Regions from separate parts of the Homo sapiens genome. Here regions 1, 2, 3, 4 and 5 are each linked to region 6. Evidence: fine-mapped expression QTL. A gene starts in region 6. Each other region holds a variant in brackets. All regions are shown on one strand. Distances are from middle to middle.

What was found. PIP is the estimated chance that this variant, and not a neighbour inherited with it, causes the effect.
Region 1: its variant is fine-mapped to the expression of KCTD20 in whole blood (INTERVAL, PIP 0.99).
Region 2: its variant is fine-mapped to the expression of KCTD20 in fibroblasts (GTEx, PIP above 0.99).
Region 3: its variant is fine-mapped to the expression of KCTD20 in whole blood (TOPMed, PIP above 0.99).
Region 4: its variant is fine-mapped to the expression of KCTD20 in whole blood (INTERVAL, PIP 0.97).
Region 5: its variant is fine-mapped to the expression of KCTD20 in whole blood (TOPMed, PIP above 0.99).

What each region holds. Positions count from the first base shown.
Region 1 is chr6:36,407,292-36,412,363 of GRCh38, forward strand. All of the region lies in intron 3 of PXT1 (peroxisomal testis enriched protein 1), which reads right to left. Among named protein-coding and RNA genes, the nearest start is that of ETV7, 22 kb to the left of the region's middle. The variant AGAAG/A (reference allele first, on the strand shown) is at 2,586.
Region 2 is chr6:35,709,572-35,714,635 of GRCh38, forward strand. It overlaps a transcript of FKBP5 not described here. Among named protein-coding and RNA genes, the nearest start is that of FKBP5, 23 kb to the left of the region's middle. The variant C/T (reference allele first, on the strand shown) is at 3,125.
Region 3 is chr6:36,682,915-36,687,982 of GRCh38, forward strand. It overlaps CDKN1A (cyclin dependent kinase inhibitor 1A), which reads left to right. Exons shown (of 3, transcript NM_000389.5): 2 at 1,183-1,632; 3 at 2,837-4,418. The coding sequence starts at 1,188. The coding sequence ends at 2,886. Among named protein-coding and RNA genes, the nearest start is that of CDKN1A, 6.7 kb to the left of the region's middle. RefSeq lists an enhancer at 72-191 and a silencer at 4,863-4,942. The variant C/T (reference allele first, on the strand shown) is at 2,086.
Region 4 is chr6:36,395,071-36,400,142 of GRCh38, forward strand. The region is part of intron 4 of PXT1 (peroxisomal testis enriched protein 1); the gene reads right to left. Among named protein-coding and RNA genes, the nearest start is that of ETV7, 9.9 kb to the left of the region's middle. RefSeq lists a silencer at 4,975-5,024. The variant G/A (reference allele first, on the strand shown) is at 3,059.
Region 5 is chr6:36,555,120-36,560,191 of GRCh38, forward strand. No RefSeq gene overlaps it. Among named protein-coding and RNA genes, the nearest start is that of STK38, 10 kb to the left of the region's middle. The variant G/A (reference allele first, on the strand shown) is at 2,425.
Region 6 is chr6:36,440,325-36,445,384 of GRCh38, forward strand. KCTD20 (potassium channel tetramerization domain containing 20) reads left to right here and starts at 2,676. Exons shown (of 8, transcript NM_173562.5): 1 at 2,676-2,787. PXT1 (peroxisomal testis enriched protein 1) reads right to left here and starts at 2,530. Exons shown (of 5, transcript NM_152990.4): 1 at 2,211-2,530. RefSeq lists enhancers at 997-1,544, 3,029-3,128, 3,734-3,793 and silencers at 1,351-1,420, 2,579-2,868.

The DNA of each region.
Region 1 (5,072 bases), 33 kb before region 6:
AAACATTGTAACAGGGAAGAAATCATTAGATCACAGCTCTAAACTAGTTATATATTGGAGGCAAAAAAATTCCTTTAACAAGATTCAAAATGAATGAAAAAAGTAAAACTCTGTATTATTTTCCAAGTATTAAAATTTTAATATCTAGGAGAAAAAAGTTGCTCATTTTATGTAATATTTGTTACTGAAAAGTTGTGGGAATATGTATACATCCACACACAAGTCTCAAGATAAAGTCATAGTCTAAATGGCCCAGTAAGGAATTTGGAAAAACTTCATGGTTAATCTTTTTTTTTTTTTTGAGATGGAGTCTCATGTTGCCCAGGCTGGACTTGAACTTCTGGGCTCAAGCAATCCTCCTGCCTCCGCGTCCAAAGTGTGTGATAATAATGATGATTCAGAATCCTAAAACACAACTTAAGGTCCTTGTATTAAAGGTATAGCCTATTTAAAGGTATAGCCTATTGCTCCTAGATAGAGATTTTCCCTCCAGGAGAATCTATCCTGTTGCCTAAGCAATCAGTTTCCTTCCTACATTTTCCCACCACAACCCCAGGCCAAAGTGGATTGGATCAGAAGTGGACACCTGACCCAAGAACAAATAGCTGGGACTTCAACATGTGTCGCTACCAAGCCCAGCTGGTTAATCCTTTTTCTTTTTCTTTCTTTTTTTTTTTTTTTGAGATGGAGTATTGAGTATTGCTCTGTTGCCCAGGCTGGAGTGCCTTGGCGCGATCTTGGCTCACCGCAACCTCCACCTCCCGAGTTCAAGTGATTCTCCTGCCTCAGCCTCCCGAGTAGCTGGGATTACAGGAGCCTGCCACCACACCCGGCTAATTTTTGTATTTTTAGTAGAAATAGGGTTTCACTATGTTGGTCAGGCTGGTTTCAAACTCCTGACCTCAGGTGTTCCACCCGCCTCAGGCTCCCAAAGTGCTTGGATTACACATGTGAGCCACCACGCCCAGCCTTTTTTTTTTTTTTTTAATACAGGGTCTCTCTCTATTGCCTCTCTCTGCTTCTCTCTGTTGCAGTGGCACAATCACAGCTCACTGCAACCTGCTAGGCTCAAGCAATCCTCCCACCTCAGCCTCCCAAGTAGCTGGGACTACAGGCATGTACCACCATGCCCAGCTAATTTTTTATTTTTTGTAGAGACAGTCTTACCATGTTGCCCAGGCTGGTCTAGAACTCCTGGCTCAAGTGATCCTCCCTCGTTAGCCTCTCAAAGTACTGAGATTACAGGAGTGAGCCACCATGCCTGGACTTGGTTAATCTTTTCTCAAAAAAGAAAAAAAAATTTTTTGTAGGTCAGGTGCTTTGCAGCATTTTGGGAGGCTGTTGGGGGAGGATCCCTTGAGCCCAGGAGTTCAGGACCAGCCTAGGCAACACAGGGAGAGCCTGTCTCTACCAAAAAAAAAAAAAAAAAAAAAAATTGTTTTAATTAGCTGGGCATGGTAGTGCCTGTAGTCCCAGCTACTTGGGAAGCCAAGGTGAGAGGATTGCTTGAGCCTGGGAGGTTGAGGCTGCAGTGACCCATGATCATGCCACTGCACCCCAGCCTGGGTGACAAAGACCATGTTTCAAAAAAAAAAATACTTTGTAAAGGAAATAATCAGCCTCAATGTGTCGGAACTTTAAAAAATACTATTGTACTTTGAGAATCCTACGTAAGGACCTCCCATCACCTGTCCCTCGAGTTGTATTTAGGAAAGCTTTTAAGCAAACATGGTGTGAAGGTTTTATAAGTGCCTTTCCACTGCCAGGCATAATGTTAATATTTTATTTTCTCACGTAGTGGTCATCCATTTATACTCCTGATTTTGTTCACTAAAAATAGGGGTCTAGGGGCTTCTGGTTCAAGACTGAGCACAAGCATTGGCTTCTCCATCTCTCCTAATCTCCCCCAAGACCTCACCAAAATCAAAGTATGAAAAAGAACAAGGCCAGAACACTGAAGAGAATGGGAGGCAGGTCAACAACAGATGAGAGACCTATGTGTGTTTCTGGAAGGCAGAAAGCAGATGAGACAAGATGCAAATAAACAAACCAGGACAGAAAGCACAGAGAACCCACCACAGGGGCTCCTGATGCTTGGAAGCCCATCTACCCCACCAAGACGCAGAGACTGGGAGAGGGAGACGCACCCTTAACTGGAAGTCTGATGGGGATCAACTGCACCACTTGGTGCCCCCAGCTCACTGTACCTAGCACAGAGTTCAGGCAAATAAAAAGAAAGAAAAGAGAATTCAGACCAGGTAAGGTGGCTCAGGCCTGTAATCCTAGCACCTTGGGAAGCTGAGGTGGGAGGATCACTTGAGGCCAGGAGTCTGAGGCCAGCCTGGGTAACATGACGAAACCGCGTCTCTAGAAAAAATACAAAAAATTAGCCAGGTGTGGTGGTGTGTGCCTGTAGTCTCAGATCTCGGGAGGCTGAGGTGGGAGGATCACTTAAGCCTAGAAGTTTGAGGCTGCAGTGAGCCATAATTGTTCCACTGTACTCCAGCCTGGGTGACAGAGCAAGACCCTGTCTGGAAGGAAGGAAGGAAGGAAGGAAGGAAGGAAGGAAGGAGAAAGAAAAGAAA[AGAAG/A]GAAGGAAGGAAGGAAAGAAGGAAGGAAGGAAGGGAGAAAGGAAGAAAGGACGAAGGAAAGAAAGAAAGAGAAAGGAAGAAAGAGAAAAAAGAAAGAAAGAAAGAAAGAAAAAGAAAAGGAAGGAAGGAAAGAGAAAGAAAGGAAGGAAGGGAGGGTGGCTGGGGGACTCGGTGGCTCGTGCCTGTAATCCCAGCACTTTGGGGGGCCAAGGCAGGTGGCTCACCTGAGGTCGGGAGTTCGAGACCAGGAAGGAAGGAAGGAAGGAGAGAGAGAGAGAGAGAGAGAAAGGCCAGGTGCAGTGGCTCATGCCTGTAATCCCAGCACTTTGGGAGGCCGAGGCGGGTGGATCACCTGACATTGGGAGTTCGAGACCAGCCTGACCAACACGGAAAAACCCTGTCTCTACTAAAAATACAAAATTAGCCTGGCATGGTGGTGCATGCCTGTAATCTCAGCTACTTGGGAGGCTGAGGCAGGAGAATCGCTTGAATCCGGGAGGCGGAGGTTGCAGTGAGCCGAGATAGCGCCATTGCTCGCCAGCCAGGGCAACAAGAGTGAAAAAAAAAAAGAAATGAAGGAAGGAAGGAAATGGGAGGAAGAAAGGAAGGGAGGAAGAGAGGAAGGAAGAAAGAGAGAGAAAGAGAAGGGAGAAGGGAGGGAAAGACAAACAGAAAGAAAAGGAAGAGAAGAAAGGAAGAAATAAAAAAGGAAGAAAAGAAAGCAAGAAGAAAGAAGAAAAGGAAGGAGGGAAGGAAGGAAGGAATCCAGACCACTCTTCTTTAATGGAAGAGGTCAAACCCTGTGGTGAAAGCAGAAGCTTCTTGATGGACGTTGGCACCTCAAATTAAAGGTCTCTTTGTTCTGGCATTTGCGGGACATGGAGCCAGAAACTAACTCATCTCCCTAAAGCCCAGACAGCTCAAAACCCTCCTATGCACCATCTGAGTCTCCATTTGGGAGAGTCCTGGAGAGGCACTTAGGCATAGTGGTAGAATTCTGAAGCCAGAAAGCTTGGATTCAAATATAAAATCTGCTACATATTAACTATGTAACCTGCCACAAGTTATCCATTCTCTCCATGCCTCAGCTTCTTCATTTGTAAAATGGCAATAGTAATGTATTATTTTATTCATTCTAAGATCTTGAATACCTGCATAATCAGTATGTGTCTTATAATCTCATAATGGCATGTCATATTTCAACAGCATTATTTACCTTTTTAGTAGTAAACAAAATAATGGTTCATCTTACAATTGATGGAATATTGAACTTAATGAAATACCATGGCTGGGCACAGTGGCTCAATGCCTGTAATCCCAGCATTTTGGGAGGCCAAGGTGGGTGGATCACCTGAGGTCAGGAGTTCGAGACCAGCCTGACCAACATAGTGAAACCCCCGTCTCTACTAAAAATACAAAAATTAGCTGGGCATGGTGGTGCACACCTGTAATCCCAGCTACTCGGGAGGCTGAGGCAGGAGAATCGCTTGAACCCAGGAGGTGGAGGTTGCAATGAGCTGAGATCCCGCCACTGCACTTCAGCCTGGGCAACAAGAGTGAAACTCCATCTCAAAAAAGAAAAAAGAAATACCATAGTAACTACCTCATAGAGGGGTTGTTGAGATGACTTGATGAGTTACACAGAACAGTGCCTAGAACACAGGTAAACACTATATAAATGTTAGTTATTACTACCCATCTGGGGGAACAGTTCTCACATAACAGCAGAAAAAACCCACACTAGCTATCCAGTGTATCTTTCACTAAAATAACAAAGAATTACCTACAAGGTGGCTCATGCCTGTAACCCCAGCACTGTGGGAGGCCAAGGCAGGAGGATTACTTGAGGCCAAGAGTTCAAAAGCAACCTGGGCAACATAGTGAGACCCCATCTCTACAAAATAAAAACAAACAAAAAATTAGCCAGGCGTGGTGATGTGTGTCTGTAGTCCCACCTACTCAGAGGCCGAGGTGAGAGGATCATTTGAGCCCAAGATGTTGAGGCTGCACTGAGCCAAGATCTTGCCACTGCTCTCCAGCCTGGGTAATAGAGTAAGACCTTGCCAAAAAAACAAATACCAGATAATCAAAACAGTAATCCTGAAGAAAACACATAATTCAGTGAAAGAAAATAATGTTTTGCAAATTCTAATGTATGTGTTTAGAGAGGTTTTTAAAAATAAGAATGGAGCCAGGCGCGGTGGCTCATGCCTGTAGTCCCAGCACTTTGGGAGGCCAAGGCAGGTGGATCACCTGAGGTCAGGAGTTCAAGACCAGCCTGGCCAACATGGTGAAACCCCGTCTCTACCAAAAACACAAAAATTAGCCAGGCGTGGTGGCGTGCACCTGTAATCCCAGCTACTCGGGAAGCTGAGGCAGGAGAATCGCTTGAACCTGGGAGGTCGAGGTTGCAATGAGCCGAGATTGTGCCACTGCACTCCAGCCTGGGTGACAGAGTGAGACTCTGTCTCAAAAATAAAAAC
Region 2 (5,064 bases), 730 kb before region 6:
TTGTATTTCTAAACCATAACAATTTGATTTTTTAGAAATCAACATAGTTTGATGAAACTATGGTTGTTTTTTCTTTTCTTTCTTGTTTTCTATATTTGCAGGATTTTAAGATATTTACATGCAAAATAGAACAGTCCCAGACAATAAAAATAACTTATGCTTTAAATATTTCTGATTTGATGTCATGCAAACGCTTTCATTCCCAGGACCCCAAAGGTCAATATGTTGAACATACACTTTAGACTTGCAAGTCCATTCAGCAATATATATTGTGCATCTATGATCTTTAAAGCACTGCTTTTAGGTAAAAAAAAAAACAGACAAGAGATGTTTGTTCATGGAGCTGATGTTCTCACGGGACAAACAGGGTAATGCGATAAAAAGTCTTGAGAATTCCATTAGAGAGGGTAGTGAGGGAAGACCTCTGAGGAGGCAACATTTGTGCTAAGGCCCAAAAGATGAGAATTCCAGGAAATGATCCTAGCACATGCAGAAACAGAAGGATGCTCAGAGCAGTTGTGGAAGAACAAGGGGCAGGAAGAGTAGCTTCAGAAAAGGTAGCAGGGCAGCATCTGTGTGCTTCAGCGAGAGATCCTCTGCACCTAACCAGAAGTGCAAAACATAGGGCTGGGCGCAGTGGTTCATGCCTGTAATCCCAGCTCTTTGGGAGGCTGAGGTAGGAGGATTGCTTGAGCCCAGGAGTTCGAGACCAGCCTGGACAACATAGGAAACCCAGTCTCTACAAAACATAAAACAATTAACTGGGCATGGTGGTGTGCCTGCAGTTCCAGCTACTCAGTGGGAGGATCACCTGAGCCCAGGGAGGTTGAGGCTATAGTGAGTCATGATTGCACAACTACACTCCAACCTGCGCTACAGAGTGAGATCTTGTCTCAAAAAAAAAAAGGTGTGAAAAATAAAAAGCCAATGATACCAAGAGCTGGTCAAAATGTGGAACAGTTGGAACTGTCATACTTTGCTGGTGAGAACATACAGTCACTTTGGAACACAGTTTAGCAGTTTTCTTTTGAAGTTAAGCATACACACATTTGCCATACGACTCAGCAATTCTGCTCCCAAGACAAATAAAAACATGTGTCCTCAAAAGGAGCTGTAGAAGAGTGTTCACAGCAACTTTTTCATAATAGCCCAAAATGACAAACAACCATAATGTCCATCAACAGGAGAATGAATAAACAAACTATGGTATAACCATCTAGTGGAATACAATACAGCAATAAAAAGGAACACACTACTTAATATGTGCAAAAACACGAACAAATCTTATAAACATTAAGTTGAGCAAAAGAAGCCAAGATACAAAAGAGTATATACTGTGTGACTCCATTTATGTAAAATTCTAGAAAATATAAATCTAATCTATACTGGTAGAAAGCAGACTGGACCGGGTAGGGATGGGCCCTTGCTTGGGCCAGGTAGCGATTGATTGCAAAAAGAAACAAACACAGCCAGTGCAGTGGCTCATGCCCGTAATCCCATCACTTTGGGAGGCTGAGGTAGGCAGATGGCTTGAGTCCGCGAAGTCAAGACCAGCTTGGGCAACATGGTGAAACTCTGTTTCTACAAAAAGAAAAAAAAGCCAAGAGTGGTGGCTCGCACCTGTAGTCCCAGCTACTTGGGAGGCTGAAGTGAGAGGATCACTTGAGTCTGGGAAGTTGAGGCTGCAGTGAGCCATGATCTCGCCACTGCACTCCAGCCTGGGCGACAAAGTCCCTGTCTCAAAAGAAAAAAAAAAAAAAAAGAAGGCCGGGAGCTGTGGGTCATGCTGTAATCCTAACAGTTTGGGAGGCCAAGGTGGGTGCATCACCTGAGGTCAGGAGTTCAAGACCAGCCTGGCCAACATGGTGAAACCCTGTCTCTACTAAAAATACAAAAATTAGCTGGGCTTGGTGGCGGGTGCCTGTAATCCCAGCTACTCAGGAGGCTGAGGCAGGAGAATTGCTCGAACCCGGGAGGTGAAGGCTACAGTGAGCTGAGGCCGTGCCACTGTGCTCCAGCCTGGGCAACAGAGCAAGACTCCACTTCAAAAAAAAGGAGAGGAGAGGAGAGGAGAGGAAAGGAAAGAAAGAAAAGAAAAAGAAACAGGGAAGCTTTTAGAGTGGAGGAATTAATCTATATTGTGATAGACATTACACAGGTAAACATTTGTCAAAACTCATCAAACTGTACACTTAAATGGGTGCATTTTATCATAAGTAAATTATGCGCATGTAAAGTTGATTTAAAACACACAGTGTGTGTGTGTACTTACTAGTCTGGTACATTATGTTTCTACTTCTGTCTGTTTTTTTGTTTTTGTTTTTTGAGACAGTCTCGCTCTATCGCCCAGGCTAGAGTGCAGTGGTGCAATCATAGTTCACTGTAACCTTGAACTCCTGGCTCATGATCCTCCTACTTAAGCCTCCCAAGTTGCTGGGACTACAGGTGTGTACAATCGCACTGGGCTAATTAAAAAAAAAAAAAAAAAAGTAGAAACAGCGTGTCCCTATGTCGCCCAGGCTGGCCTCAAACTTCTGGGCTCAAGCAATCCTCCCGCCTCAGCCTCCCAAAGTGCTGGGATTATAGGCATGAGCCACACCTGGCCTCTCTGTATTTTCTAGAAAATAGCTTGCGAATAATTGTTTGTTACCCGCTCTCTTTTTTCCCTTTATCCCCTGCGCCAAAGTGAATTAAGCCTGTCACCTGGAATTTCTAACTATTAAGGCCAACTCCATCATCTCAACCCTTGCCACAGAGTTGTTTGTTTGTTTCCATTTTACAGGGGAATCTTAGAGAAGGCTTTTGCAGAATGGGAGGTGTCAGGAGAAAGCCCCAGAAGGGGGTAAGGAGGGTAAGGGGTGGTAGGTATCTTCCAGGGAGATATGCCTGGAAGTTCAAAGAGAAGCATTGAGACCCTTATGGTTTGCTAAGGAAGAGCTAGTTGGGCCTGGCACTAGGAAAGGGCCCAGGCTTTGTTTTGTAAGCCAGTTCTCTCACTACCTGCCCCTTCACAGCAAGGAGCCAGATTTGTCTACCATCCTGTCCTAGTTCTCAGAGATCCGAGGGCTGTCATTGCATAGCTAGATCCTGCTTTCACCCTGTCATGCAAACCGCCAACAGGTAT[C/T]TCCCAAGCCTGGCAACATGCAGGGTGGTAAGCTGGCTACCCTCAGGGAGATGCTGAGGCACCAGTGCCTTGTCTTCTGAGACTCACTTCTGATGGCAGGAACTGGGCTGACCCTAGAACTGAAGCTGGCCGTGTGGCCTGGGCACTCCCCAAAACTACTTAGTAAACCTTCATCACAGTTTTGCTTTCCTGTTCAGGTCCTGTGGGCACAAAGCAAAACTAATTTTATCCCAAAGCCAGGTGTGGTGGTGGGTGCCTGTAGTCCCAGCTACTCGGGAGGCTGAGGTGGGAGGATCACTTGAGCCCTGGAGGTTAAGGCTGCAGTGAGCCGTGATCACGCTACTGCACTCCAGCCCAGGCGACAATGCAAGATCTGGTCTCTAAAAAAAAAAAAAAAAAAAAAAAAAAGAAGAAGAAGAAAGAAAGAAAAAAATCTTATAACATGAAGCCAGTATTAGTAGAGTGGGCATAAGCGGGTGGGGCAAAAAGAGGGGAGTGACTCCTTGGGGCATGTGGTGAGTGAGGAGGATGTGGCTCAGGTCAATGGGAGCCACACTTGTTGGGGGAACCTTAGGACTAGAATGAGGCAGCAGCCAAGGCCAAATCCTGTGGCCTAGAAGAGGGACAGCCCAATGGAATTTTGCCTCATTATGAAGACCGTTGGCTCCAGTGACAATATTAGCTAATGTCTACTAGGCACTTAATGAAGCTGGTGGTCTAGATGGTCTAAGGTGCCTTCACTAATTTAATCTCCAACAACAACCTTATGAGGTAGACACTACCACCCTTTGACAGTTAAGGAAATGAAGGCACAGAGGTTTTAAAAGACCTACCCTTCTAGCAAGCAGCACAGCTGTGACATATGCTCTAAGTCACAGCACCTCTCAGAAGTCAGTGTAGGAGGCTGAAGCTGCTAGCTGGCGGGTGGGGGCCCAAGGAGCAGCAAACGCTCCTGCCCTGGGGATTCTCCTGTGAGCTTTTTCCCAGACTTAAATGCTCAATTTGCATAAAGGGTAGCAGAGAATGTAAAAAGCAGCCACTTGTCCAAAACTGTGCAGCCACCCAGAAGGGTTGTGACCTGCCTCTCCGGACTCACACCCTCACATCCTCTCTCCCCTGCCTTCTTGCCCCACCTGTCCAACTACTAAGCCTTGGGGTCCAAATATTTTCTTGACTTCCTGCCCTTCTCCCTTCCCTCTGATTGTCAAAATCTGTCAAGACTCAGCCCAAATCTCACCTCTTCCAGAAATCCCTCACAGACATCCCTGATTGGAACAATTCTGTCCCCAGCCCATCCACTGAGATGTGAGGCTCTTTCAACTGAGGCCTGGGGTCACTTCTCAGGGGGTCTGTCTCCCTGGGGGCATAAAACCACAGGGCTTGCTTAGTAAGGAGCTGACACCCACCCATGGTTAAGCAGGTCCTTAAGGGGTTATGAGGACATCTCTCTTTACTGACTTGAAAAATCTTAGGCGGCCAGGCACAGTGGCTCACACCTGTAATCCCAGCACTTTGGGAGGCTGAGGTGGGTGGATCACCTGAGGTCAGGAGTTCAAGACCAGCCTGGCCAACATGGTGAAACCCCGTCTCTACTAAAAATACAAAAATTAGCCGGGCGTGGTGGCATGTGCCTGTAATCCCAGCTACTCAGGAGGCTGAGGCAGGAGAATTGCTTGAACCCAGGAGGCAGTGGTTGCAGTGAGCCGAGATGGAGACATTGCACTTCAGCCTGGGTGACAAGAGCGAAACACTGCCTCAAAAAAAAAAAAAAAGAAAAGAAAAACAAGATGTATAGGATTTTACTCTCAAAATGTATTTTCTTCAAAATACTCTGTGTTCTGCTGGGTGTGGTGGCTCACGCCTGTAATCACAGCACTTTGGGAGGCCAAGGTGGGCAGATCACCTGAGGTCAGGAGTTTGAGACCAGCCTGGCCAACATG
Region 3 (5,068 bases), 240 kb after region 6:
CCTGGCAGGATGTGGCTCAGCCTGGGAGAAATCATCCCTTGCGCTGCCCCGCCCGGCCCCTCCTTACCCCTAGGCCACCCGCCTGACGACATCCTTGGGAAAGGCCCTCAGCCTACAGCACCTGTCAGCTGCTGTCTGAAGGAGGTAGTTGGCAGGGGGAAGTGATAGGGGGGAGGCTCAGTAAAACTGAAGGCAGAGAGGAATAATCATACTTCTGTTTTCAATGCACTTCTCTATACGAAGTGCTGCTGGCACGTTACCTACATTAACTCAGTTAATTCTCATGTCTATCCTCTGAGACAGTCACTATTACTATCCCCATTTTATAGATGAGGAAACTAGAGCTCAGACAAGTTAAGTTGCTTGCCCAGGGTCACCTAGTAAAACCTGGACTCCAGCCCAGGTGATCTGGCTCCAGAGCCCTCCTGCTTAACCACCAGGATACAGCCTTTCATTCAGCTCTGTTCTGTCTGCCTTGCTGCATGGACTCTGTGATCAATTTCTTGAGTATGTGTCTGTAGCCATGCTCTTTAAACTTGTACATGGCCCCATTTATGGATGAGGAAACTGAGACCTAGAGACATTAAGTGGCTTTTTAAAGCTTACGTAGTAACTGGCAGAGCTAGGACCACAACCCGGGTGCTTTTTGCCCCAAAGTCCCGGGTACTTTTACTTGGCAGAGCAGGGTTACCCTACTTGGGGATCTGGGTCGGGGGACTTAGGAGGCTGGAGGAACTGTCAGACTGTTTCTTCTTTTGGGAATTGACCTTCTGGCCAGGGCTGCGATTAGGAAACTGCTGGACTCTGGCAATTCACACATATTTGGGGGGCATTCACACCCATGAGGGACACCTCTGGGGGGAAAACAAATTGATTTTAGCTGATAATACCTGGTGGCAAACAGGACCCTGGTCCTTGCTCTTGCAATAGACTTGCCTTTGTTGACATTAGCTTGCCCTTCAGTTGCCTGCTCTCCCAGTGACCTTGGTGTGCCAGGCTGGCTGAGCTCTGCTGGTGGGGGTCAGGCCTCCTGTGGGAAGGAAGCAGGAAGACCAGCTGGAAGGAGTGAGAGAGACCCTCTGGTAGGAAGACGTCACCTGAGGTGACACAGCAAAGCCCGGCCAGGTAACATAGTGTCTAATCTCCGCCGTGACCAGGGCCTTCCTTGTATCTCTGCTGCAGGCGCCATGTCAGAACCGGCTGGGGATGTCCGTCAGAACCCATGCGGCAGCAAGGCCTGCCGCCGCCTCTTCGGCCCAGTGGACAGCGAGCAGCTGAGCCGCGACTGTGATGCGCTAATGGCGGGCTGCATCCAGGAGGCCCGTGAGCGATGGAACTTCGACTTTGTCACCGAGACACCACTGGAGGGTGACTTCGCCTGGGAGCGTGTGCGGGGCCTTGGCCTGCCCAAGCTCTACCTTCCCACGGGGCCCCGGCGAGGCCGGGATGAGTTGGGAGGAGGCAGGCGGCCTGGCACCTCACCTGCTCTGCTGCAGGGGACAGCAGAGGAAGACCATGTGGACCTGTCACTGTCTTGTACCCTTGTGCCTCGCTCAGGGGAGCAGGCTGAAGGGTCCCCAGGTGGACCTGGAGACTCTCAGGGTCGAAAACGGCGGCAGACCAGCATGACAGGTGCGGACATGTGCACGGAAGGACTTTGTAAGGGACCAGGATTCTCAGAATCCATGGTCCAAGGGCTGACCTGTCTGGTCCTGGTCCAGCATGCTCCAGGTAGAAGGAAACAGGCCCAGAGAGGGGAAGCAACCTCCCTGAGGTCACACAGCAAGTAGGCAGCAAAGACCAACTAGCTAACATTTATTGGGAATGTTCATTATGCCAGGCCCTTTGCCAAGCTTCTAAGGTAGATTTATTTAGTCCTTATAGCAATGTTATAACATAAGACATTCTTGTCACCCTGCCCGCCTTTCTTTTTGAGACAGGTGTCTTAACTCTGTTGGCCAGACTGGAGTGCAGTGATACGATCATGGCTCACTGCAGCTTCAAACTCCTGGGCTCAAGCGATCTTCCTACCTCAGCCTCCTGGGTAGCTGGGAAGCTGGGACTATAGTTGTACACCACTACGCC[C/T]GGTTAATTTTTTGAGTTTTTGTAGAGACAAGGTCTCACCATGTTGCCCGGGCTGGTCTTGAACTCCTGAGCTCAAGCAGTCCTCCTGCCTCAGCCTCCCAAAGTGTTGTGATTACAGGCGTGAGCCACCATGCCCAGCCCCTTGCCATCCTTTTAGGGCAAGGAAACCAGGCTCAGAGAGGTAGAGTGATTTATCTAAGGTCTCAAAGTGAATTTGCCGTTGGGTCAAGACTAATTATAATAACAACAACTACTGACGTTTATATGGGCCCGGCATTGTGCTGAACACTTTCATGGATTTTGTAACAGAATCCCTAGATCAGCACTGTCCAGTAACTCTGCAGGGATGGGAGTGTCCGGTACAGGGGCCACGAGCCACATACGGCTGTTGTGCATTTGACACACAGCTCATGTGACTGAGGAACTGAATTGTTCATTTTATTTGATTGTAGTCTGTTTAAACAAGCACACAGAGCTAGTAGTGGTTCCTCTGCTGGGCAGCTTGACTTAGAGCAGACCCATGGGTGCGGGTGCGGTGATGGATAAAATCACATCTGTGAAGCATGGTGGGACACTCCATAATACCCCTCAAGAGACAGAGTGGACGTTCCCCGAGTTCTTCCTGTTCTCAGCAGTCGGCCCCATTGGCCCCAGGGAAGGGTGTCCTGGCCCCCCACTGTCTTCCTCAGTTGGGCAGCTCCGCCGCGTCCTCTTCTTCTTGGCCTGGCTGACTTCTGCTGTCTCTCCTCAGATTTCTACCACTCCAAACGCCGGCTGATCTTCTCCAAGAGGAAGCCCTAATCCGCCCACAGGAAGCCTGCAGTCCTGGAAGCGCGAGGGCCTCAAAGGCCCGCTCTACATCTTCTGCCTTAGTCTCAGTTTGTGTGTCTTAATTATTATTTGTGTTTTAATTTAAACACCTCCTCATGTACATACCCTGGCCGCCCCCTGCCCCCCAGCCTCTGGCATTAGAATTATTTAAACAAAAACTAGGCGGTTGAATGAGAGGTTCCTAAGAGTGCTGGGCATTTTTATTTTATGAAATACTATTTAAAGCCTCCTCATCCCGTGTTCTCCTTTTCCTCTCTCCCGGAGGTTGGGTGGGCCGGCTTCATGCCAGCTACTTCCTCCTCCCCACTTGTCCGCTGGGTGGTACCCTCTGGAGGGGTGTGGCTCCTTCCCATCGCTGTCACAGGCGGTTATGAAATTCACCCCCTTTCCTGGACACTCAGACCTGAATTCTTTTTCATTTGAGAAGTAAACAGATGGCACTTTGAAGGGGCCTCACCGAGTGGGGGCATCATCAAAAACTTTGGAGTCCCCTCACCTCCTCTAAGGTTGGGCAGGGTGACCCTGAAGTGAGCACAGCCTAGGGCTGAGCTGGGGACCTGGTACCCTCCTGGCTCTTGATACCCCCCTCTGTCTTGTGAAGGCAGGGGGAAGGTGGGGTCCTGGAGCAGACCACCCCGCCTGCCCTCATGGCCCCTCTGACCTGCACTGGGGAGCCCGTCTCAGTGTTGAGCCTTTTCCCTCTTTGGCTCCCCTGTACCTTTTGAGGAGCCCCAGCTACCCTTTTTCTCCAGCTGGGCTCTGCAATTCCCCTCTGCTGCTGTCCCTCCCCCTTGTCCTTTCCCTTCAGTACCCTCTCAGCTCCAGGTGGCTCTGAGGTGCCTGTCCCACCCCCACCCCCAGCTCAATGGACTGGAAGGGGAAGGGACACACAAGAAGAAGGGCACCCTAGTTCTACCTCAGGCAGCTCAAGCAGCGACCGCCCCCTCCTCTAGCTGTGGGGGTGAGGGTCCCATGTGGTGGCACAGGCCCCCTTGAGTGGGGTTATCTCTGTGTTAGGGGTATATGATGGGGGAGTAGATCTTTCTAGGAGGGAGACACTGGCCCCTCAAATCGTCCAGCGACCTTCCTCATCCACCCCATCCCTCCCCAGTTCATTGCACTTTGATTAGCAGCGGAACAAGGAGTCAGACATTTTAAGATGGTGGCAGTAGAGGCTATGGACAGGGCATGCCACGTGGGCTCATATGGGGCTGGGAGTAGTTGTCTTTCCTGGCACTAACGTTGAGCCCCTGGAGGCACTGAAGTGCTTAGTGTACTTGGAGTATTGGGGTCTGACCCCAAACACCTTCCAGCTCCTGTAACATACTGGCCTGGACTGTTTTCTCTCGGCTCCCCATGTGTCCTGGTTCCCGTTTCTCCACCTAGACTGTAAACCTCTCGAGGGCAGGGACCACACCCTGTACTGTTCTGTGTCTTTCACAGCTCCTCCCACAATGCTGAATATACAGCAGGTGCTCAATAAATGATTCTTAGTGACTTTACTTGTAATATTACTATTGTGGTTATTATACCTTATAAGAACAAATAAATGGGCTTTTGGGAAGGATTTCATAATTAAATAATTTTAAAAATTAAGCATTTAAATTTAGAGAATGCAGAAAACTTAGCAAACAGAAAGACTGCTGCAAAAAACAACAGCAAAACAAAAACTACTGTCACACCTCTGCAAAGATCACCAATGTCAATATTTTGGTTTGTTGTGTAATCTTTTTGTAAAGAATATATTATAGCTTAACATCATTATTCATCAGATAAATGCAAATTAAGATACCACAATAAGATACCACCATACACTTACCAGAATGATTAAAAAAGACTGACAGTGCCAAGCATTGGCAAGGTTATGGAGCAACTGGATCTCTTATTTAAAAAAACTGTTTGGGCCGGGCGCAGTGGCTCACACCTAGAATCCCAGTGCTTCGGGAGGCTGAGGCAGGAGATCACTTGAGGCCAAGGGTTCAAGACCAGCCTGGCCAACATGGTGAAATCTCTACTAAAAATACAAAAATTAGCTGGGCATGGTGGTGCACGCTTGTAATCCCAGCTACTTGGAAGGCTGAGGTGGGAGGATCACTTGAACCCAGGAGGCAGAGGTTGCAGTCAGCTGAGATCATACCACTGTACTCCAGCC
Region 4 (5,072 bases), 45 kb before region 6:
GGCCTCAGCCTCCCAACGTGCTGGGATTACAGGTGTGAGCCACTGTGCCCGGCCTAAAAGATGTTATTTTGAGAAACACAGAACACTTTTGAAAAGACAGAGCACTTGCTTAAGTAAAAAGAACAAGAGAGCAAAAAATTTGGCAGCTCAACAACAATCCATTTAGCAGATAAAAATATAAATTGATGAGCTGCTTGATAGGCAGTTCCAAGAGCAAGAATAAAAGTTTCTTTAAATACATCAATGGCAGGAAGGCATCTAGAGAATCGATGTGACTGCTTGATTAAACAGAGTACAAAAGGTAAATAAATGATGACTATATAGGAAAGAAAGTTACCATGCCAGACTTGAAATTCTGTTAAAGTTCCTTGATTTGAACTTTGAAGCAGCAAAGCCTTCAGCATTTCAGAGCCAAACTTAGGATTTTTTTTTTTTTTTTTTTTTTTTTTTGAGACAGGGTCTCACTCTGTTACCCAGGCTGGAGTGCAGTGGCACGATCACAGCTCACTGCAGCCTTGACTTCCCAGGTTCAAGCGATCCTCCTACCTCAGCCTTACGAGTAGCTGGGACTGTGGCCACCACACTCGGCTGGAATTTTTCAAACTATTATTTTTTAAATGTGTTGTGGTCTATTTAAAGGTGTTCTAGGCTGAGCGCGGTGGCTCACGCCTGTAATCCTAGCACTTTGGGAGGCCGAGGCAGGCAGATTGCTTGAGCCCAGGAGTTTGAGACCAGGCTGGGCAACATGGTGAAATCCTGTCTCTACAAAAAAATACAAAAAAATTACCCAGGTGTGGTGGTGGGCAACTGTGGTCCCAGCTACTCTGGAGGCCTACGTGGGAGGATTCCTTGAACCTGGGAAGTTGAGGCTGCAGTGAGATAGTGCCACTGTACTCCAAATTGGGCAACAGAGTGGGACCCTGTCTCAAAAAACAAACAAACAAAAGAAGGTATTCTAAAGTACAAGTTTACAGGTTTATAGTACAGAACAAATGTCTAGGTCAAAACCAGCTTTATAAAGTTCTGCAAGAAAAGCTGGAGCAGGCATAAGGATAGCTATACAGATCAGCGGAACAGAATTGAGAGTACAGAAAGAAACCCTCATATTTACAGCCCACTGGTTTTCAACAAGGGTGCCAATGATGGCAATGGCTGCTGTCCTCATGCTGGCTGCAGCAGGAAGGTGCAGCTGGGGCCACATGCTCCATGGAGCCAGTAGGAGCCCAGCCCCTTCTGAGTTGGGGCAGGAGCTCCCTGGGTGCCACTGTGGCCACCCTCCCAGTTGCAGGACCCAGGCATCTCTGCAGCTTGCACCCTCAGGGGCCCCAGGAAGCACCCTACCCCTACCCCTGAAGGCTCAGGGGTGTCTGCTGCCACTGCCTGGCCTCTCTCTGCTCCCAGAGCCTGCTCCAATCTCTGAGCAGGGGTTGGGGCTGAGTCCCGCATGGCGCCGGAGGCAGATTGATTCCTGGGTGGAAGGGGGTGGGTCCCCAGTGAGACCCCACCTTCAGGCCAGGGAAGGCCTAAAGGCTGGGGGCTAGGCTGCCAGTCCTGTGGACCAGAGTGAGGACTGGTGGTGCCTCTTCCAGGCCCACCCATGGCCACCCATCGACCAATCAGCATGCACTGCCTCCCCTCTGAGGTCCATATAAGCCTTGGGCTCAGCCAGAGCAGGGCAGATGATGTCCTCAGGACAAAGAGGGTAGAGAGACAATGGAATGATCAGCTGCAGAGAGGAGCTACCCTCCCTGCTGATAGCTGGAGATGAGGAAACAACAAGTTGCAGAGAGGAACTGCCCTCTCTGCTAAGAGCTGCAGAGATGACCTGCTGGCAGAGAGGAGCCACCCTTCCCAGGGCCGCCTCTCCACTGACAGCTGCAGACATTGGGACGACTAGTTGCAAAGAGGAGCTACTCTCTCCAGGGCCTCCTCTCTGCTGAGAACTGAACACTCAATGGATAACCTGCCTACAGAGAGGAGCTACCCACTGCGGATCTCCTCTGAGCTGTTGTAACACTCAATAAAGCTCATCTTTGTCTTGTTTACCCTTCACTTGTCTGCATACCTCATTCTTCCTGGATGCATTCTTACTGGGTGCAGGAAAAGAACTTGGGCAAAAGATGCCATGGCCACAGAGGTTTCCGGCCAGAAAATTGACACCCCAAAGATCCCATAACACCAAGACAATTTATAGGGAAACAATAGTCTTTTCAACAAATGGTACTCCAGGCACAGTGAGATGTACCTATAGTCCCAGCTACTTAGGAGGTTGAGGTGGGACGATCTCTGGAGCCCAGGAGTTTGAGGCCAGTCTGGGCAGCATAACAAGACCCCGTCTCAAAGAAATAAACAAACAACAACAAAATCCAAATGGTGTTGGGACAACAACCCATATGCAAAAAAATGAAGATAGACTCTTAACTAAAATGTATGTAAAAATTAACTTCAAATGGATCAAAGATCTAAATTTAACAATTAAAACTAAAAAGCCTTTAGAAGAAAACATAAGTGTGACACCCAAAGCAAAAGCACTAGCAACAAAAAGAAAAGTAGATAAATTGAACTTCATCAAAATTCAAAACTTTTGTACTTCAAAGTACACTATCAATAAAGTAAAAGGACAACCTACAGAATGGGATACGATATTTGCAAATCATATATCTGATAAGGAACTTACATCTAGAATATACAAATGACTCCTAGGCCAAGGCAGGAGCCCAGGAATCCAGGACCAGCCTGGGCAACATAGTGAGGGCCTGTCTCTACAAAAAATAAAATAAAATAAAAATTAAAAAATTAGCCAGGTGTGGTGACATGTGCCTGTGGTCTCAGCTACTCAGGAGGCTGAGGTGGGAGGATCAATTGAACCCAGGAGTTCAAGGCTGTGTGAGCTATGATCACAGCACTGCACTCCAGATTAGGCAACAGAGCAAGACTCTGTCTCAAAAAAAAAAGACTCCTACAATAATAAAAAGATAAGTAGTCAATTATAAATGGACAAGGATATGAATAGACATTTCTCCAAAGAGAAAAATGACCAATAAGCATATGAAAAGAT[G/A]CACATTATTCATCAGGGAAATGCAAATCAAAAGCACAATGAGATACACTTCATACTCACTAGGATGGCTACAATCAAAAAGATAGTTAATAACAAATGTTGGCAAGGATGTGAAGAAACTGGAACCCTCATACACTGCTGGTGGGCCACAGTGTATAATAGTGCAGCCACTTTGGAAAACAGTCTGGAAGTTCCTCAAAAAGTGAAACATAGAGATTTCACATGACCCAGCAATTCCATTCCTAGGTATGTACCCCAAAAAAATAAAAACATGTCTACACAAAAAGTTATATACAAACATTCACAGCATCATTATACATGATAGCCACAAAGTGGAAACAACCCAAATGTCCAACCACTGGTGAATGGATAAGCAAAATGTGGTATATCGTACAATAGAATATTCAACTGTAAAAAGAAGTAAAATACTGATACATGCTACAATGTGGATAAGCCTTGAAAAAAGTATGTTAAGTGAAAGAAGCCATACACAAAGTTCCATGTTGTGTTATTCTACTTATATAAAATGTCCAGAATAGGCAAATCCACAGAGACACAAAGTAGATTGGTGGGGCTGGGCTTTGCACTGGCTGTTCCCTCTGCCTGGAACACTTTCCCACTCCAGGTGTTCTCATGGCTAGCTCCTTCATTTCCAGGCTCTGCTTAAATATCACCTTCCCAGAGATGCCTTCCCTGACAGCCCATTGGAAGTCACTCTCCATCAGTCAGTGTGCCCTGATCCTGCTTGGAGCTTGCATCCCTGTCTGACTTGGCTATTTATTGTTCATCTGCCTTGTTATCTGCCCCCTCCCCACATCATTTCTATGAGCCCTGCTGCTCACTGCTGTAGCCACCAATGCCTGGAACTGAGTCTGGCATATAGTAGGCATTCAATAAATATTTGTTGGAATGAAATTGGCTTATCAAATAGTTTATTTGATTGCCTATGTTCTCTATGTTTATTTTCTCTTTATTTCTCTCTTGCTTTATTTTATTTTATTTTATTTCATTTCATTTCATTTCATTTCATTTTTTGGGACAGAGTCTCACTCTGTCATCCAGACTGGAGTACAGTGGCATAATCTCAGCTCACTGCAACCTCTGCCTCCCAGGTTTAAGAGATTGTCCTGCCTCAGCCTCCCGAGTAGCTGGGACTACAGGTGTGTGCCACCATGCCTGACTAATTTTTGTGTTTTTCAGTAGAGACGGGGTTTCACCAGGTTGGCCAGGATGGTCACGAACTCCTGACCTCAAGTGATCTGCCCGCCTTGGCCTCCCAAAGTGCTGGGATTACAGGCGTGAGCCACCGCACCTGGCCCCCTCTTGCTTTTATAGCATTATTGTTGGGATCTCCCATTCATGTTTTGTCTCCAGGATGTTTTATTTGAGGGAAAGGCTGTGTGTTGTCCACATTTGGACCTGAGTATAAAAGAGTACACGGCACTCCCTGTGGCATGCATGGTGGAGGACAGCATGGTGGAAGCTGCACCAAGAAAGCTTCACAGGATAGTTGAATCTAAGGGCAAGAAGTTGGGCTCTGAGAGGTCTGCCACCCCGTCTGTCACAAAGCCCATGTAATCATTCTCTCCTGCCAAATACAGGTTGTTTCGGAGGAAAACTAAGTTAGCTGTGGATTTCATCACCCCCAAAATTTCAAACAGTAATCATTAGTCTTTCCTATTTTCCCTTATCATCTGTTATAATAATCAGGAGATTCTAAGAAACCGGCCAGGGTAGGGCCTGCATCCTACCCTTCGGGCTGATTCAGGGAGGATAACCACAGTCCAAGGCATAGGTTCTCCTCCCTGACTGTGCATTAGATTCACTGAGGCAGTTTTTAAAATGCCAGGTTCCCAGGCCTTACCTTGTGCCAATTAAATCAGAATTTCTCCAGGTTGGGCCCAGGCATCTGTCGTTTTTAAAACTCAACAGGTGATTCTAATTGCATCCAGTTTTGAGGGTGTGAAACAGTTTGTTACACTTCAATGTGCACACAAATCCCCTGGGGAATGTG
Region 5 (5,072 bases), 110 kb after region 6:
TGGTTTCAGACTTGGAGATATAGCAACCCAGAAAACAATGAGAGCTTTGACTATATGTTTGTGCCTGCTTAGAGATTTTTTTACTTTCTTTAAACTGAATGCTTAAAAATGGGACGAAAATAATTGAGAAGTCTTAAGAGATACACATTTTAAATTAATTTTTTCCAAATGACTGTGTGTGTATGTTGTGATGAGTCAATGTTTCTTTGGGAATTGAGGGTGAAAAATCTCGAAAACTAATAAAGGATGTGAAGTGTGTCAGGTCCAGTGCCCAAATGACACGTAACTTTTCCCACCTACCCACTGGGGATTGCAGATATTAGGAGGGAGGGAATATATGCATATACACACACACACACACACACACACACACACACACACACACATATAAGTATATATACACACACACATATATATATATGCAAATGTAGACTGAAGGCCTTAGGGGGGAAGGAAAGAGAATTATAATTTCTGAATAAAAATTATAGTTCTGAAAAATTCTGAAAGCCAGAAGTGAAAGGGATAAGATGTCCATTGACCTAATTGTGCTTAGATGGGAACCTCCCTGTAAAACGGAGTTTCTGAGGCTCCCACTGTTGAAAAAAACTGGTGGGGTGGAAAGCTGCACGAATCACAAGATTCTCAGGCTCCCTTAGGAACGTGCTAAATCTTCCATATTTGCAGAGGCCCCAGAATTGTCCTAACTGCCATCTGATAACTGATCTCATAAATTTCCTAAAAATGGAAGCATTTGGATCCCATTTGTTCCAAATAGAGGTAACAGCACACACACACACACACACACACACACACACTCTCTCTCTCTCTCTCTCTCTCTCTCTATCTCTCTCTCTCTCTCTCTCTCTCTCTCTCTCCAAAGTGTTTTATATCCATAAATGTGCAGAGTGCTGGGTTAGGTAAAAGTTACATGTTTCTTTGTTGCAGGACTTCTCAGGACCTTTAATTGCATTCTGACCTTCCATCAGGAACACTTATTATACAGGATTTCCCAAATGTATTTGAGATGCTTTGTGGAGAATGATTAACATTTCCCTAAACTCATTCTTTCAGGAACCTGGATCTAGATAATCACCATCAGGGTGTGGGCTCAAGAGAAAAGGGCCAAGAAGATCACCTGCTAGTTCTCATGTAGTTACAAGTCAAAGGAGCAGAAGGAGACCCAACTGCCTGTTACCGTCTCCTGGATGTCAAAAATGACCTCGTAAATTTCCTTTTCATTCTAAATTGCTAATAATGGTTTCAGAATCCAATCATATCAGAGCTAAGAGGGAACCTAGAGATCACCTCATGTAGTCCTTTTATTTTACAGATGTTGAAACTGGTCTAAGGAGAGGAATTAAGTTGCGCAAAATTACAACGTTAATTAAGTTACAAAACTTGGTTAGAATCAGGTTCCCTGACTTCCTGTCCACTGATTTTTCTCCTGCCCTGTGGTACCTCCTGGTATGACTGGATCCACAGACTAGCAATGGGCTGTTATCGCACAATTTTGACAAATTTGCCTATAATTAAAAATGAGATTTAAGCCTAGCTGATGGCCTGTATTATCTCAAACAAATCTCAATAAGACAAAACTTCAATATGACAAAATATTCTAGATAGTCATTGGTATTTGAAGCAGTAGAATTTGATCTGTGATTTCAACACTGGATTTTTTTTTTTTTTTTTTTTTTGTGACAGTCTCCCTCTTGTTGCCCAGGCTGGAGTGCAATGGCACAATCTCAGCTCACTGCAACCTCTGCCTCCTGGGTTCAAGCAAGTCTCATGCCTCAGCTTCCTAAGTAGCTGGGATTACAGGCGTGTGCCACTACAGCCGGCTAATTTTTTGTATTTTTAGTAGAGACAGGGTTTCACCATGTTGGCCAGGCTGATCAACTTCTGATGTCAGGTGATCCACCCGCCTCAGCCTCCCAAAGTGTTGGGATTACAGACGTGAGCCACCGCTCCCAACACAGGATTCTTAATTTGTCTCTGAACACAGTCTTATGATGTCATCCTTGAAAACTGCACTGTGGGTCATAGAGATGTCATGGTCCATCTCTCTTTTTAATGTTTTCATATTCTTTTAAAGAATAGATCAAGGATTATAAAAGATTAAAAGTGAAAATCTCATTTCTACCTCTGTCTCGCATCCTTTCATTGTTCCCCTTCCCTCTCTGTACAGTTTCCCATTTGTTTTTGTGTATCCTTCTGGAGTTCTTCATGCAATTGGAAGCAAATATAGATACAGAGACTTATGTTTCTCATTTTTTTTACACAAAATGGCACAATCTTTTTATTAGGCAAGTCTCTTCCCCTTTGGAGCCTCATTTCCTGATTTCTGAAGAAAGGAGATTGCAGGCCTTGAGCTGTGGCCCACGCCTATAATCCCAGCACTTTAGGAGGCCAAGGCGGGCGGATCAC[G/A]AGGTCAGGAGATCAAGACCATCCTGGGTAACACGGTGAAACCCCGTCTCTACTAAAAATACAAAAAATTAGCCGGGCATGGTGGCATGTGCCTGTAATCCCAGCTACTCAGGAGGCTGAGGCAGGAGTATCACTTGAACCCAGGAGGCGGAGCTTGCAGTGAGCCGAGATCGCGCCACTGCACTCCAGGCTGGGTGACAGAGGGAGACTCCATTTCGAAAAAAAAAAAAAAGGAGGTTGCACCAACTCTCCACAGTCCCTTCTCTCTGAGATTCTCAGATGCTGGGGATACATCAAGCCCCTGACACTCACTCTGCTTCTCTCAACAATGTTTAGCTTTTTGGAAAGTCACACTTGTATGGCTGGTTTTGTCAGTGACCTCAAATTTAAGCACCCGGGGTGTGGTTTGCAGACATTGGTATTTCATGCTTTAAGAAAATCCAGTACACAAATGTCAACATTTCCAAAGCAAATTAGGGAGTGTCTGTTTGCGTTAAAAATGAACCTTGCAAAAATGATTCATCAAAAGTTTTTTTTCCTGTATTTGCATATATTTTTTCACTAAATAAATAATACCTGGTACAAAATTCAAAAGAGTATACAATGAAAACCTTCCACCTTGATCCCCAGCCACTGAGCTCCCTTCCCCATGGGTCACGTCTTACCAGTTTCTTCTGCATCCTTCCATATTCTTTGCATATGCAAACATAACTGTACATATATATTTTTTTAAATAACACTCTAAACATACAGTTTTGCACCTTATTATCCTTTGCTGAAAAATATACTTTGGAAAGCCTTCCAGATCATCAGGAGAAATAGAAATGCCTCAGTCCTTTTTTTTTTTTTTTTTTGAGGCGGAGTCTTGCTCTGTAGCCTAGTGCAGTGGCGTGATCTTGGCTCACTGCAACCTCCGCCTCCTGGGTCCCAGTTCAAGCAGTTCTCCTGTCTCAGCCTCCCGAGTAGCTGGGACTACAGGCACCTGCCACCACGCCCGGCTAATTTTTTGGATTTTTAGTAGAGACAGGGTTTCACCGTGTTATCTAGGATGGTCTCGATCTCCTGACCTCGTAATCTGCCCGCCTTGGCCTCCCAAAGTGCTGGGATTACAGGCGTGAGCCACCGCGCCTGGCCAATGCTCAGCTAATTTTTGTAGTTTTAGCAGAGACAGGGTTTCACCATGTTGGCCAAGCTGGTCTTGAACTCCTGACCTCGTGATCCGCCTGCCTCGGCCTCCCAAAGTGCTGGGATTACAGGTGTGAGCCACTGAGCCCAGTCCCCTTCTTTTTTTTTTTAAGGGCTTCATAATTTTCCATTGACAGATAGATCAAAATGAATTTTATCTAAATGGGGCTGTTTTTCATAGTGAACTCAACTATTCCATTGACAATCTGATTTAATTCCTGCAGCCTTATTTTCAGTTGCACTCTATTGCAGGAAACAAGATACTCTCAGGGTGCTTCCATCTGTGCACAGTGCACAATGAGCAGGCATCAGTGTCTACAAACAGATGTGCCAACAGAAACTCACAAGTGTTTTCACCTCTGAAACCTTAGGATTGAATCTCAGATTAGTTAAAGATCCTCAGTTTAATCTTCCTAATTTTTAGAGTAACTTTTTCCATTTCCTGATTTTTAGAATGAGCTTCCGTCTCTCTTTCTCTCCTCATTACTGAAAGTGGAACAATCTAATGCTGCTTTTCTGTTTTTCTTTTCGGCTCCAAGCTTTTGAAACCAGCCCCATTCTCCAAGGTTCTTACTTAACTCACTGAAGACTACTAGCAGCTTTTACCCTATGCTGGTCCTCACCTCTGCCCTCAAAACTTCTCCACAGTCACATTCAATATCAGAATAGATATTGAAAGAAAGAATTTTGATCAGAGGCCGGGGATGATGAGATATTGATCTCCCAGCCCTCAGGGCAGCCAAGGGGCTCAGGCAGCCTTGAGTAGCCTCATCATTCATTTACCTCTGGGGATGTACAAAGGGTATGATTTTTCATGTGTGACCGTGAAAAAAGTTGAGAAGCTCTAATGAGCACCATGAGAGGAAACACTGTCGTTAGTGTTTGGCACATGCTGTGTTCTCAGTTAATATGTGGTTGATTGATTGGCTAGTTGAATGACATAATCAGGAGTTACGTACTCAATAAATAGTAGATATTATGACTATTGTCATGACTATATCTTCTCGCTGTTCTTTGTGCCTCAACCCAAAGGAAGAAGAATACAGGATATCCAACAGATATTTTACTAATTAATTACTATTACTATTATTTGTCTATTTATTTGAGACAGAGTCTCACTCTGTTGCCCAGGCTGGAGTGCAGTGGCACGATGCTGGCTCACTGCAACCACTGTCTCCCACGTTCAAGCGATTCTTCTGCTTCAGCCTCCCGAGTAGCTGGGATTACAGCCGTGTGCCACCACACCTGGCTAATTTTTGTATTTTTAGTAGAGATGGGATTTTACCATGTTGGCCAAGCTTGTCTCGAACTCCTGACCTCAGGTGATCTACCCACCTTGGCCTCCCAAAGTGCTGGGATTACAGGCATGAGCCATCGCTCCTGACCTATTATTATTACTTTTTTAGAGACAAGGTATCACTCTGTCACCCATGCTGGAGAGCAGTGGCACTATCATCACTCAC
Region 6 (5,060 bases):
CTTTGGGATGCCGAGGCGGGTGGATCACGAGGTCAGGAGATCGAGACCATCTTGGCTAACATGGTGAAACCCCATCTCTACTAAAAATACAAAAAATTAGCCGGGCACAGTGGCGGGCGCCTGTAGTCCCAGCTACTCGAGAGGCTGAGGCAGGAGAATGGCGTGAACCTGGGAGGGGGATTAAGTCCAGAAGATCGAGGCTGCAGTGAGTGGTGATCACCCAGCCTGAGCAACAAAGGGAGACACTGTCTCAAAAAAAAAAAAAGAAGAAGGTTTTGGTTTCAGATACAAATAAATATCAGAGACTCGGGGTCTTGAGATACCTACATTAAATTAGAAATAAAATGATAAAAACCAGCAAACACCTATGCTTTCTGTGAATATACATTTCTCATATCCCGTCTCCTTGATGTCTGCCCAAAAAAGGTACCCAGTCTGATATGCTGTTCATTATATGAAATTTTAGCCAAAAGTTGAACCATTAACTATTAAAAGTCATGTTATCACTTATTTATTTTGGATGATGGATAACGGGTGTTTATTATATCTTTCTGTATGCTTTAATTTCCAAAATGAAAGTGTTTAAAAAATAATAATAAGACTCGGTAGTTAGCCTGATTCTCCAAACTTCAGGCCAGATTTTTGTATACCACAAATCTGCAGCCAGTGCAGTGGCTCATGCCTGTAATCCCCAAACTTAGGGAGGCAGAAGCAGGAGGATAGCTTGAGCCTAGGAGTTCAAGACCTGCCTGGGCAACAGAATAAGAACTCCATTCTCCACAAAAAGAAAAAAAAAAAAAAAAAGAAAGACAATATACAAATCTACGGGAAGGAATCTTTCCAGAAAGGAAGAATTTGTTTCAAGAACTGTTTTGCAGGAATATCAGAAGGTTTTTTATTTTTCTTTGACTCAAAGGCTGTAACACTGTACTTTATAAAAATGGAAATAAAGGCATTAGTTTGAACAATCCTCTATGCTGCTACTGTTGTAAAGTTTGGAGCCTATAACTCACTCAAATTGGTTTATAGCCATGTGTTTACTAAATCTTTTTTCATATTCCTTTTCTCCAGGCATACAGGAATTTATATCTCACAGCCTTCTTAGAGTCAGTCAGGTTGAGCCTGGTGACTAGTTCAGGACAGTGAAACGTCAGCAGAAGTGAAAAGGCCACTCACTTCTGGCAGAGGCAAAGGAGAGCCCTTACAGGATTCTCCAATCTAGCTCTTCTGCCAGCCCGGAAGTGCTGGGAGGGCAGAGCCACTGACGCAAGCAGCAGGGAAGCTGAGTCACCATGGGGACGTGAGACTGACTTACAGATGACGAGTGCAGCCTCACAGCCTAGTCCATGTTGAGATAAACACAATACAGTCCTGCATACTTTATAGTCATAAACGAGGGAGAATAGAAATGGAAAATGACCCTCTAGGCCTCTAAGACCAAATTATAATGAAAAAATTTATGTCTTCAGTTTTGAAAATTAAATTTTTTGACCCTGATAAAACAAATTTGCTATACAAGTATCCGTTAACCGTGTGAAACCTACTGAGTCAAACTATTTTCTTACATTCCTTCCACTTCAACACCAATTCTAATCCAATTCCAAATTAGTTTTCAGAGAGTCTCTTGTAAGGAAAAGGAGAATCGACTTCGAATTTTAAAATTTGTGCTATTATTAGTTTATAGAGCTTTCAACAATTTACAAATAGTTTGCATAATCAGTATATTTAATTAGTATATATAGACATATATATATATATTTGAGAGGGAACTTCACTGCAACCTCCCAGTTGCCTCCTGGGTTCAAGTGATTCTCCTGCCTCAGCCTCCCAAACAGCTAGGGTTATAGGCGCCCACCACCACGCCCGGCTAATTTTTGTATTTTTAGCAGAGACAGGGTTTCATCATGTTGGCCAGGCTGGTCTGGAATGCCCAACCTCAGGTGATCTGCCCGCCTCGGCCTCCCAAAGTGCAAGGATTACAGGCGTGAGCCACCAAGCCCGGCCTAGTGTAATTTTTAAAAGTACAAAAGCCACTAGAAACCGTGACAATAAGAACTTCCTTTTGGGTTTTCCAGCATTTGGTTCATAGGACATGGACCATATATAGATGTTTTTTGAATGCTGAAATCTTTTACTCATAACACAGTTTTCCCAGTAACTTGCTTCCGGTTGATTTAAAATTTGTAATACACCTTTGTAATAGCAGGTACCTTCATGAAACTCAGTATTTGAGAAAAATGTGGAGTTTTTCCCCCTTTCTTTTGGCCAGAATGTATATCCAGGGTAGTGACTTTCGAGCAAATGCGTTTAAGCAACTCCAGTATTCTTACTACGCTACCTCCAACCTCGCTCCACGCATGGGGAGATCAGGGTTCCACATTTTCGGGTAAGCATTAGCCGTCCTGGCGCTGCACGAGCGTATTCTACAATTCCGAAAACTACTAACTTTTCCGTCTGCAACCTTTAATAATTGAGAGGGTATGCGCAACTCAGAAAAGTGCGCCCGCTGAGGTTGGGTGCAGAGTGGACTGGAGGAAAGGCGACACCCATTTACGGTGCGGCCCCGGACGGGGTCCCCAGACACGGCCTTCCCGGCGTGCCACGCGCGGAGGGGACTCTTAACGTGAAGCGCTGGGTGACTCAGCCGCGTGGCCGCGCGGTCCGGGGCGGGGGGCGCGCGCCGCTGCGGCACAGCCGGTCCCGGCTGCGGCTTCTGGCTGCGCGGCCTGCGCGCGCCTCCCGGGCGGATTCCAGCCCCGAGCGGGACAGCGCGGCGGGGAGCGACGAGTAAGTGGCGGCGCGGTACGGTTTCGGGCGCGAAGACCGGGCAGGGAGAGTGTGGCGGCGGGCGTGGCCCGAGTCTTCCCTTTGTGGCCGAGGGGGCGTCTCCTCCGGACGCGGCGGCGGTTCGGACCCCCGAGTCGAAAGGCCGCGGGGCTGAGCTGGGCGCGAGGAACCTGTGGGCAGCGGCTTGATGGGCTCCTGTTTCCGCGCGGAGGGCAGAGTCTGGTGATCCTGGGGAGGGAGGCGACGCTGCGCCCAGGTGGTGGGCACAGCTGAAGTGTAACTTGACTGCTTGACTGCTTTTTGCAGGCCTCGGGTGGTTCATCCCGCCGGAGAGGAATGGCGAGAACCTGGAGTGTTGACTGGCAAAACATTTGCAGACGCGGTTTTTCTGGCAATTAATTGGCTCCATTAAAAATTAGGTAGTTGGTGGGGACTTCCTCCTGAACTCTGGAGCCGAGCGCATTTTGCTCGGTCTTTTCAGCCCTGTTTCCGCGTCTTCCTTCCCTGCCACCCGCAAATTGCCAGCTTTCATCCGTGGCTCTGAGTGCAAAAGAGCTGGGGAAAGCCTTAACCAGCAATTTTCTTTTAAATAAAACTTTGCTTTTTATAGCAGTGTCTTCAGGTTTAGAAGCCCAGTTCTGCACTATGAGAAAACTCTTCTATTTTGGAGTTTGTGATTCTTTCTGAAAATTCCTCAGTTGAAGAGATTTATTTTTAAATAAGAATCTAGTGAACAAACTAACATGATAAACAAGGCTGTGAAGGAACTGTTTAACCAGCTTATGAAAATATGTCCCAGAGTCCTTAGTTTTGTTCCTGTTCGCTGTGCGAGAAGTTGAGGTAGTTTTTTAATGGTCTTCAAAACAAAGTGTTGTAGTAGTGTCTGTCGGATGTGATGAATCCAGAGTCAGAGGACTTCCGCTCAAGGCCCCCACCTGAAACCCCAATTCCTAGGCCATAGTTCTGAAACAGAAGATTGTTCCTTAGTAATAAGGTTGCAGTACCCTAGCACCTCTTCCATAAATTTGATTCTAGAGATTTGTGATGGGTCCCTGAGTCTGGGATTTAAGCAAGCACCTGCACTCTTGGTCTGTTACTGATGATCCAGGGACCGACCACACGTTGACAGACACCACCTTTAGGCTGGGCTGGGAATTTTAAAAACTGCCCAACAGCCTTAACCCTTTGTCGATGTTTTCCTCCCCTGCCCTAAACCAGTCGTAGGACAAGAAGCCCTGACTCTCCAGAAGCCAATATGAGAAAAGATAGTGCTTTTTTTGACCCTGACACGGGGTAGGAAATGATTTTCATGCATATTCCGATATTGCTCTGATGGTTTAGAGATAGCCCATTAATCTTTTCCTTCTGAGGGCTGCTTCTAGTATCATCAGAGCTTAATGCCATTAGGCCAAATCTCCTCCGCCCAGCTCACTCAAGTCTCCCCATGGAACCAGGGCAGCCAATGCCATATAATTCCCATGGCCTTGACTGTCATATTATCTGGTATGTAGCAGTACTAGTAGCATTATGAGGGCTTTCAGTTCAGCTGGACGTTAATTTAGTCATCAAATACCTGCGTAATGCCTATTTTCCTCAAAGCACTGTAGTAGGCTGTTTTATCAACAGCATTGCAATATAGACACATATTTCTGGCACAGAGTTGCATTCCTCCTTTGAGGCAGAAATGAGGGCTGGATAAACTCCACTGCTGCCAAAAGGTTCTCTTTATTCATCCACAATTTGTTCCTTCCTGTTATGCCAGAAATACACGTACTATTCCAATAATCTCGTTTTCCTTAAGAAGTTAAGAAATACATTGTATTAGGCCTAACTGTAGTAGTTAGGTCAGTCTTAAATTCTGTAACAGAAGCCGGGCGTGGTGGCTCATGCCTGTAATCCCAGCAATTTGGGAAGCCGAGGCAGATGGATCACCTGAGGTCAGGAGTTTCAGACCAGCCTGGCCAACCTGGTGAAACCCTGTCTCTACTAAAAATACAAAAATAAGCCAGGCATGGTGGTGGGCACCTGTAATCCCAGCTACACGGGAGGCTGAGGCCGGAGAATCACTTGAATCCGGGAGGCAGAGGTTGCAGTGAGCCGAGATCGCGCCATTGTACTCCAGCCTGGGCAACAGAGTGAGACTCCGTCTCAAAAAAAAAAAAAAAAAAAAATCTGTAACAGAGACATCTAGTAACTTTGGTAAGGACAATAATACACGCATTTTTATATTTATTATTCCCCCTTCAAATAGATGTGTAGAGATGAGGTTAGAA